2 separate regions of the Homo sapiens genome follow, and region 1 is linked to region 2. Evidence: fine-mapped expression QTL. A gene starts in region 2. The other region holds a variant in brackets. All regions are shown on one strand. Distances are from middle to middle.

Region 1 (4,391 bases), 460 kb before region 2:
TTATAGTTAGGAGTGGAATTGCTGAGTCATATGGCAACTCCATGTTTAATCCCCTGAAAAACTGCCAGACTGTTTTCCAAAGCAGCTGCACCATTTTCCTTTCCCCTGGCAATGTATGAAAGTTCCAAGTTTTCCATATCCTTACCAACACTTATTATTATCTGTCATTTTTATGTGTTTCTTGAATCTCTTTCAGTCTTCAGATTTACCATCTGCCTCTCTTTAATTTTCTTTCTAAATTTTGTTGCATGTGGAAGAAACCAGTTTATTTGTTCTGGAGAGGATCCCACCATTTAGGTTTTGCTGATTGCATCCGGGTGGTGTCTTTTAACAGTTCTTCTATCCCCTGTCTACTGTGTAAACTTGTATTTATATTCTAGAGGCATAATCAGATTTGGGTTTTAGGTTTTATTTTGTTTTGTTTTTTGGAGGACCACTTCACATGTGGTGCTGCATACTTCTGATAGAAAATATGTAACGTCTGATTATCTTGCTTGTTGGGATACCACAAAATGAGTGGTTGACATCACAGTGAGAATTCAATGTGCATTTCTCTTACTATGAATGACTTAAAGATCTCTTCGTTTATTTGAGAGACACTGATTTGTAGTGCTTATTCTGAACACATTCTTATGCTACTTTTTCTGTTGTATACATGACATATTCTTTGTTTGTAGAAATTCTTTATCGATTAAGAGGACTGATTTTCTCTGTTAGGCAATTTTCCATCACTTCCTCCCTCCCTGATCCCCACAGCAGTCACACTATGTTTTTTCTGGAGACTGGGTCTTGCTTTGTTGCCTAGACTAGAGTGCAAAGGCGGGATCATAGCTCATGCAGCGTCGAATTCCTTCTGCCTTAGCCTCCTGAGTAGCTGAGTAGCTGGCCCAGAGTTTGAGACCAGCCTAGCCAACACGGTGAACCCCTGTCTCTACTAAAAATACAAAAATTAGCTAGGCTTGGTGGTGCACACCTATAATCCTACATATTCAGGAGGCTGAGACACAAGAATCACTTGAACTCAGGAAGCGGAGGTTGCAGTGAGCCAAGATCGCACTACTGCACTCCAGTCTGGGTGACAGAGCGAGGGTCTGTCTCAAAAAAAAAAATAAATAAATACTACCGGTTTCGGCCAGGCACGGTGGCTCATGCCCATAATCCCCGCACTTTTGGATGCCGAGGTGGGCCTCCTGAACTTGAGCCCAGGACTTTGACGCTAGCCTAGGCAGCTTGGAGAAACGCCATCTCTACAAAAAAAAAATTCAAAAATTGGCTGGATGTGGTGGCACGCACCTGTAGTCTCAGTTACTCAGTAGGCTGAGGCGGGCAGATCACTTGAGCCTGGGAGGTCAGAGCTGCAGTGAGTCGTGATTGTGCCACTACACTCCAGCCTGGGCAATACAGCAAGACCCTGTCTCAAAAAAAAAAGTTTCCTATACTGATATAAAACTTAAAAAAAAATTTTACAGATTGATGTTATAAACTGGGTGCCTTCATGTGACAGAAATGTATTGCTTACAGTTATAGAGGCTTAGAAGTCCAGGATCAAGGTGTCAGCAGATTTGCTGTCTGGCAAGGACTTGTTCTCTGGTTAATAGATGGCAGCCTCTCATTGTGTGCTCCCCTGGAGGAAAGGGAAAACAAGCTCCATCTGGCCTCTTTTGTAAGGACACTAATCCCCTTCACCTCCTGAAGTCCCCACCTCTTGACACCATCACATTGGGGATTAGGTTTCACCATACAAATTTTTGAGGCAATACAAACATTTAAACCATAGCACTTAGAGCTCCCAGATTTCAGCCACCAAGGTCACCAACTACTGAAAATGTAAAAGTTCCTATACTCCCCTTTTGTCCCACTAAATGTCGTCTATCATTGACATTTAAAACAAGCCACCTTTACAGGCCAGGTGCGGTGGTTCATGCCTGTAATCCTAGCACTTTGGGAGGCCAAGCCAGGTGGATCACCTGAGGTCAGGATTTCGAGACCAGCCTGGCCAACAAGGTGAAACCCTGTCTTTACTAAACACAAAAATTAGCCAAGCGTGGTGGCACATCCCTGTAATCCCAGCTACTTGGGAGGCTGAGCCAGGAGAATTGCTTGAACCCTGGAGGCGGAGATCATAGTAAGCTGAGATTGTGCCACTATACTCCAGCCTGGGTGACAGAGCAAGACTCAATCTAAAAACAAAAACAAAAACAAACAAACAAAAACAAGCCACCTCCTCGCCTATCTGTGTCCTGCAGAGGTGACTCAACCCATTTTTGTAAGAAGCAAGACTGGGCTTGTCCACAGGCCCCTGAGCCTGGGCCTCCTGTACAGTTGCCAGGAAAGCCAAGCCGATTCCTCAGTGG[C/A]CGTCTCCTGAAGGTTGCTCTTCTTCTCAGTGGTTCTACAGACACTGTAAGGCCCCTACTCACAGGATCGTAGCACACTCGCGAAGATGTTTACCTGTGGGGTGTGCCCCGGAAGTGGGATTGAGGGTCCAAAGGTCCAGGCATATCTAAGAAAAGAGATTCCTGTTCCCTGGCTCCCAGGAGCCTCTCCACCCAGGGAGATGTTCTCTGGCCTTTCAGAATTCCCTTGCCAACCTTTCAGCCCCCTGAGCATCCCCGAACTCACCATGTGTGTCCATATGATTATTTTCCTACTTACCTCATTGTTGTCCCTAAACTTTTCTCCTTCCTGGCTTCGCAAAAATCCTCCTCATATTTTATCTCAGTGTGCAAAGGTGGCCAATTGTGTTCAATCGGCCTCTTGGTTTCACCAAAGTATATTCCCTCTGTCATTAAGAGGCTGTATTCTAGTCCCATAGACCCTAATAATCCCCTTATACCCCTACCTCTGACCAACTTGCCTCTCGGGGCACCGGATTTCCAGGGCGAAAGTCTCCCTTCTTTCCATCCACGGCCTTTAAGCCCAACTACAGCTTTTTGAAGTTTGGAGCGAAAGACCAGGACACCCACTTTGCCCATTTGGGCCACCAGGTGGCAGACAAGGATAATGTTAAACCTGGGCTGACTTGAACTTGAGAGAGCAGGGAGACTTTCCTTTCAATAAACACTGGTGCATAATGTTTCCACTACATTCTGAAAGCATTTATTGAACACCGGCTGCATGCCTGTCTCTGTATGTTTTTCAGTTCTGCAGAGGTACAATATAGTTTCCCAATATACATTCCCAGGATTACTGTTTAGACTTAATAGTTATTTTTTAACAGCTTTATAGTGAAATAACTTACAATTAAATTTACCTCCCCCCACCCTTTTTTTTTTTTTTTTTCTGAGGCAAGGTCTCGTTCTGTCACCTAGGCTGGAATGCAGTGGCACAATCACAGCTCACTGCAGCGTCCACCTCCTGGGCTCAAGCCATCCCCCACCTCAGCCTCCCAAGTAGCCAGGACCACAGGCACATGCCACCATGGCTGGAGAACTTAAATTTTTTTATTTTTTATTTTTGGTAGAGGCGAAGTCTCACTAGGTTACCCAGCTGGTCTCCAACTCCTAGGATCAAGTGATCTTTCCATCTAGGCCTCCCAAATTGGTAGGATTACAGGCAGATGTGAACCACTGTGCTTGGCCTAAACTCACCCATTTTCAGTGTGCAGTTTGATCACGTTGAGTAAATGTATAAGACATGCAAACACCACCACGTGGAGTTTTACAATATTTCTATCACTCCAAAATTCCCTCAAGCCCTTTTGCAGTCAATCGTCCTGATCCATGCTCCTAAGCAACCATCGAGTTGCTTTCTGTTGCTATAGTTTGCATTTTCTAGAATATGAATGAAATAATACAAATTATAAATTAATATGATAGTACTAATTATATAAATGAAATAACTTGCGATTGGCTTCTGTCAATTGTGTTTTTGAAATTCAACCAGTAGTTCTTTTCTTTTATCGTGGAGTGGTATTCCATGTATAAATATACTCCCTTTCTTTTTCTTTAGAGACAGGATCTTGCTATGTTGCTCAGGCTGGTCTTGAACTCCTGGGCTTAAACAATCCTCCCGCCTCGGCCTCCCAAAGTGCCGGGATTATAGAAGTGAGCCGGTGTGCCTCGCCAATATACGCAACTTTATTAATTCATCAGTGTAGGGGTGGCCTGCCCCTCCACACCTGTGGGTATATTTCATCAGGTGGGATGAGAGACTGAGAAAAGAAATAAGACACAGAGACAAAGTATAGAGAAAGAAAAGTGGGCCCAGGAGACTGGCGCTCAGCATATGGAGGACCTGCACCGGCACCGGTCTCTGAGTTCCCTCACTTTTTATTGATTATTATTTTCACCATCTCAGCAAGAGGAATGCGGCAGAAGAGCAGGGTGATAGTGGGGAGAAGGTCAGCAAGAAAACATGTGAGCAAAAGAATCTGTGTCATAATTAAGTTCGAG
Region 2 (4,391 bases):
AAAGAAAGAAAAACAAAAACAAAACAAAACAATCTGGCTAATTAAGCACCACTGTTGCTTTTACTGCATCTCATGGTGATTATCTGTTTACAAACCCGTCTCCCACAGTGAACCACCAGTTCCACAAAAGCAGAGACCACCCCTCACCCGTGTCTGAACCCAGCTCTCTTTCAGTAAAGGAAGTCAAGCCACTTTTTTACCATCTCTGCTGTCATTACCCCAATCCAAACCTCCAGCATCGCTCTCCTACAGTGTTTGCATGATAATAACCAACACCAGCATTTAGAATGCACTTATTCTGTGCCAGGCACTGTTTCAGTGGAATTCACTCATTCAATCCTCATAGAGCTCTAAGGAAGGTCCTATCATTTCCAACTGTTCTTGTAGATCCCTGTAGTCACTGATTTCAGATGTGACTGGCCTCTCACTTCCTCATAAAAAACATACAGAACACCCACTCCCATCATGAGGACACTGAGGCTCAGAGACACTAAATGAGTTATTTTAGGAGGCACAGCTAGATTGGCAGAACTAGGATGGCCCTCAACTGACTTCCCGGTATGTCTGTCACAACCATGCTGCTCAGCAGCCAGAGTGAAGTGAGCTTTTCAAACGTGAAACTCATCCAAACTCTTCTTTGGGAGGCCAAGGTGGCTGGATCACCTGAGGTCAGGAGTTCAAGACCAGCCTGGCCAACATGTTGAAACCCCGTTTCTACTAAAAATACAAAAATTAGCTGGGTGTGGTGGCAGGCGCCTGTAATCCCAGACTTGGGGGGCTGAGGCAGGAGAATCGCTTGAACCCGGGAGGTGGAGGTTGCAGTGAGCCGAGATTGTGCCATTGCAGTCCAGCCTGGGTGACAGAGCGAGACTCCATCTGGAAAATAAAAATAAAAATAAACAAAAAATAAAAAACTCTTCTGCCGCTTGCAGTGGCTCACACCTGTAATCCCAGCACTTTGGGAGGCTGAGGCAAGAGGATCCCTTGAGACCAGGAGCTCGAGACCAGCCTGGGCAAAATAGTAAGACCTCATCTCTACCAAAACCTTAAAAAATTAGCTGAGCGTGGTGGCGGGTATCTGTAGTCTCAGCTACTTGGGAGGCTGAGGCGGGAGGATCGCTTGAGCCCGGGAGCCGGAGCCTGCGGTGACCCATGTTCACACCACAGCACTCCAGCCTGGGTGACAAAGGGAGACCTTGTCTCAAAAAAATAAAAAATTGGCTGGGAACGGTGGCTCACACCTGTAATCCCAACGCTTTCGGAGGCCGAGGCGGGTGGATCACCTGAGGTCAGGAGTTCGAGAACAGCCTGGCCAACATGGTGAAACCCCGTCCCTACTAAAAATATAAAACTTAGCCGGGCGTGGCGGCGGGCGCCTGTAATCCCAGCTACTCCAGAGGCTGAGGCAGCAGAATGGCTTGAACCCGGGAGGCGGAGGTTGCAATGACCCGAGTCGTGCCACTGCGCTCCATCCAGCCTGGGTGACAAGAGCGAAACTCCGTCTCAAAGAAAAAACTAAAACTCTTCCCATGGTTTCCTTTTAAAACAGACCCTCCATGACCAACCCCTCCATTTCAATACCAGAGAGCCTAACCCGACCTGAAATCACTTTAGTCATGTATGACATCCGCTTCCCAGCCCCCTTCCTTAATGCTCTGGGTTCTGGAGACAGACCACGTCTGTTGGGAGTCCTCTGTGCCCACGCCTGGCACAGAGCCTGGCAAAGAGTAAGCGCTCAAGGAAGATCTGTGAACTTGATGCATGCTAAAAGGAAGCCCCGCGCTCTGCCGGGGCCCTGGAACTCAGGCCACCGGCTCCAGGCGGAAGCGAGCCCAAAGCCGGCCAGGCGGCAGCATCCGCTACCCCGTGGCTCAAGCCAGGCTCCGAGGTGAGAAACCGGGCGGGGACTCCTCACCTGCGCGCCGCGGAGGCCGTGCCAGATGGGCCCTGCCAAAGTCAGCCAGAGGTTCGGGCCCCACGCCTGGCCTTCCACCCTCCCCGGGGCAGCCGCGCCTCAGACCCTCGCGGTAGGGACGGTCCCCGGGACTGGGCGGCAACGCGCCCGGGAGCGGGGCCCCATCCCGGACGGAGACTGGGCCGGTGAGTCCTCGAGCTCTGGCTCTGGCTCCGGCTCCGGCTCCGGCTCCGGCTCCGGCTCCGGCTCCAGCAGGCTGGAGGGGCGGCCAGGCCAGACCCAGACTGGCTGGGCCTCGTCCGGCGCTGGGCCCGTTCCCCTGACAACGGCGCGGGCTACGGCGCCCCACAGCGGCCAAACCGCGCTGCGTCACTCCGCGCCGGTCCCCCGGCCAGGGCGGGGCTTGCCAGGGACCCTCTTGGTGCCCCAGTCGGCCCATTCCCAGATTCTTCCTAACCTTTCGTCTAGAAAATCCGCTTTTCCCTACTCCCGAGTCACAGCTTGTCTCCCCGAAATCCTAACATCTCAAAAGCGCCCCCTTCCAGTTTCTATCCTGAGACCACCGCTCTCAAGAAGAGACCTCCCCCAACCCCAGTCAACCTGCACACTTCAATGAGCGTATGTGCTGGAACATCCATGATATCCCGACCCTTCCGGGAGCTTACAGGTTAAGAGGCAAACAGATCTAGACAAATAAATTACACCACTAAAAATGCAGGTACCCCAGAATATAAAGCGAGAAGCGTAAGAGCTTAAAATAAGCAGCACAAAATATCTCATTTATTTATTGCCTTTAAATCAAGCAAAAATCAAGCCCCAATCTTCCAGGCTGATGGGAAATTCAGTCTTTTTCTATTTTTTAAACTGGTCTCTGTTACCCAGGCTGGAGTGCAGTGGCACGATCACGGCTCTCTGCAGCCTCGAACTCCTGGGCTCAGGCGATCCTCCCGCCTCAGCCTCCAGAGTAGCTAGGACTACAGGCGAACACCACCACGCCCGACTAATTTTCGCATTTTTTTGTAGAGGCGTGGTTTTGCCATGTTGCCCAGGCTGGTTTCGAACTCCTGAACTCAAGCGACCCGCCCACCTCAGCCTCCAAAAGTGCTAGGATTACAGGCGTGAGCCCCTGCCCGGCCGGGAAATTCAGTCTCAGTCTCCACTGTACTCCTTTTAGCTAGGTAATTCCAAAGGACTCATGTTTTCCTATAGCAAAAAACAACAATCAAAAACAAATAAGCAAAAAACTCTCTGGTCAGGGTTTTGTCTGGTACTGAGGCCACAACCATTGCTCCAGTCCACAAAGATTTTCAGGTTTGGGCTCTATGAGGCCATCCCTGCCTGAGGCCCCTGCCTCTCCCTGGGGCTGCCAGGGACAGACACCTGCTTCCTCTGCTCCATGGCCTGCAGCCTCCCTTCCCTTTCTCTACCTGGGAGACTTCCCTGCTAACTTGGTTTCCCTAAAAGTCCCCTCTCCTCTTCTCCTTGTGGACACTCAGAATGGAATCTTCTATGAGCTCAGGCTTTCTCAAAAGACAGGAAGACACTTTGTCTTCTGCTATCTGTCCTGTGCGCATCTCCAAGGCAGATATGACAGATAGGGAAAGAAAACATCCTTATCTCTAAAATGTATAAGTCACAAGCATACTTATTGTATGTTTTATTAGGCAACATAACTACTCCTTCTCTGTCACATGACAGGTGTGTGGGTCCTTGTGCAAGTGACATAACCTATTACTTAAATTCTTGTTTTCAAGACTGATAAACTCAAACTCAATGTGAGATAAATATCAATGCTATTCTGGCTTCAGAGTACAAGCTGACTACTTAACTCTTATCTGGAATTGGAAAACTTCGGGTCAAACAGAGATCATGACCCAGAAATCAAGGTGAAGGATGAGGCTGGATGCAGTGGCTCACACCTGTAATCCCAGCACTTTAAGGAGGCTGAGGCAGGAAAATCACTTGAAGCCAGGAGTTTGAGACCAGCCTGGGATACATAGAGAGACTCCCATCTCTACAAAAGATGAAAAAAAATAGCTGGGCCTGGTGGCCTGTGCCTATAGTCCCAGCTACTCACGAGGCTGGGGCAGGAGAAAAGAATCACTTGAGTTCGGGAGTTCAAGATTGCAGTGAATTACGATCATGCCACTGCACTCCAGCCTGGGTGAAAGTAAGATCTTATCTCTCAGCTGGTCTCAGTGGCTCACACCTGTAATCCCAACACTTTGGGAGGCCAAGGCAGGTGGATCATGAGGTCAGGAGATCGAGACCATCCTGGCTAACACGGTGAAACCCCATCTCCACTAAAAGTACAAAGTAAGCCAGGCGTGATGGCATGTGCCTGTAGTCCCAGCTACTCGGGAGGCTGAGGCAAGAGAATGGCTTGAACCCAGGAGGCAGAGGTTGCAGTGACCCGAGATCGCACCACTCTACTCCAGCCTGAGTGACAGAGTGAGACTCTGTCACACACAAAAAA

Evidence for each region. PIP is the estimated chance that this variant, and not a neighbour inherited with it, causes the effect. A credible set is the group of variants that fine-mapping cannot tell apart.
Region 1: its variant is the best candidate, but not a certain one, in a credible set for the expression of ZDHHC1 in thyroid (GTEx, PIP 0.84).

What each region holds. Positions count from the first base shown.
Region 1 is chr16:66,951,284-66,955,674 of GRCh38, forward strand. LOC107984881 (a long non-coding RNA gene) reads right to left here and starts at 2,916. Exons shown (of 4, transcript XR_007065090.1): 1 at 2,840-2,916; 2 at 1,520-1,624. RefSeq lists silencers at 169-369, 369-569. The variant C/A (reference allele first, on the strand shown) is at 2,355.
Region 2 is chr16:67,414,256-67,418,646 of GRCh38, forward strand. ZDHHC1 (zDHHC palmitoyltransferase 1) reads right to left here and starts at 2,222. Exons shown (of 12, transcript NM_001323627.2): 1 at 1,916-2,222. It overlaps LOC124903702 (a long non-coding RNA gene), which reads left to right and starts at 1,648. Exons shown (of 2, transcript XR_007065093.1): 1 at 1,648-1,888. RefSeq lists a silencer at 1,889-2,278 and an enhancer at 2,111-2,768.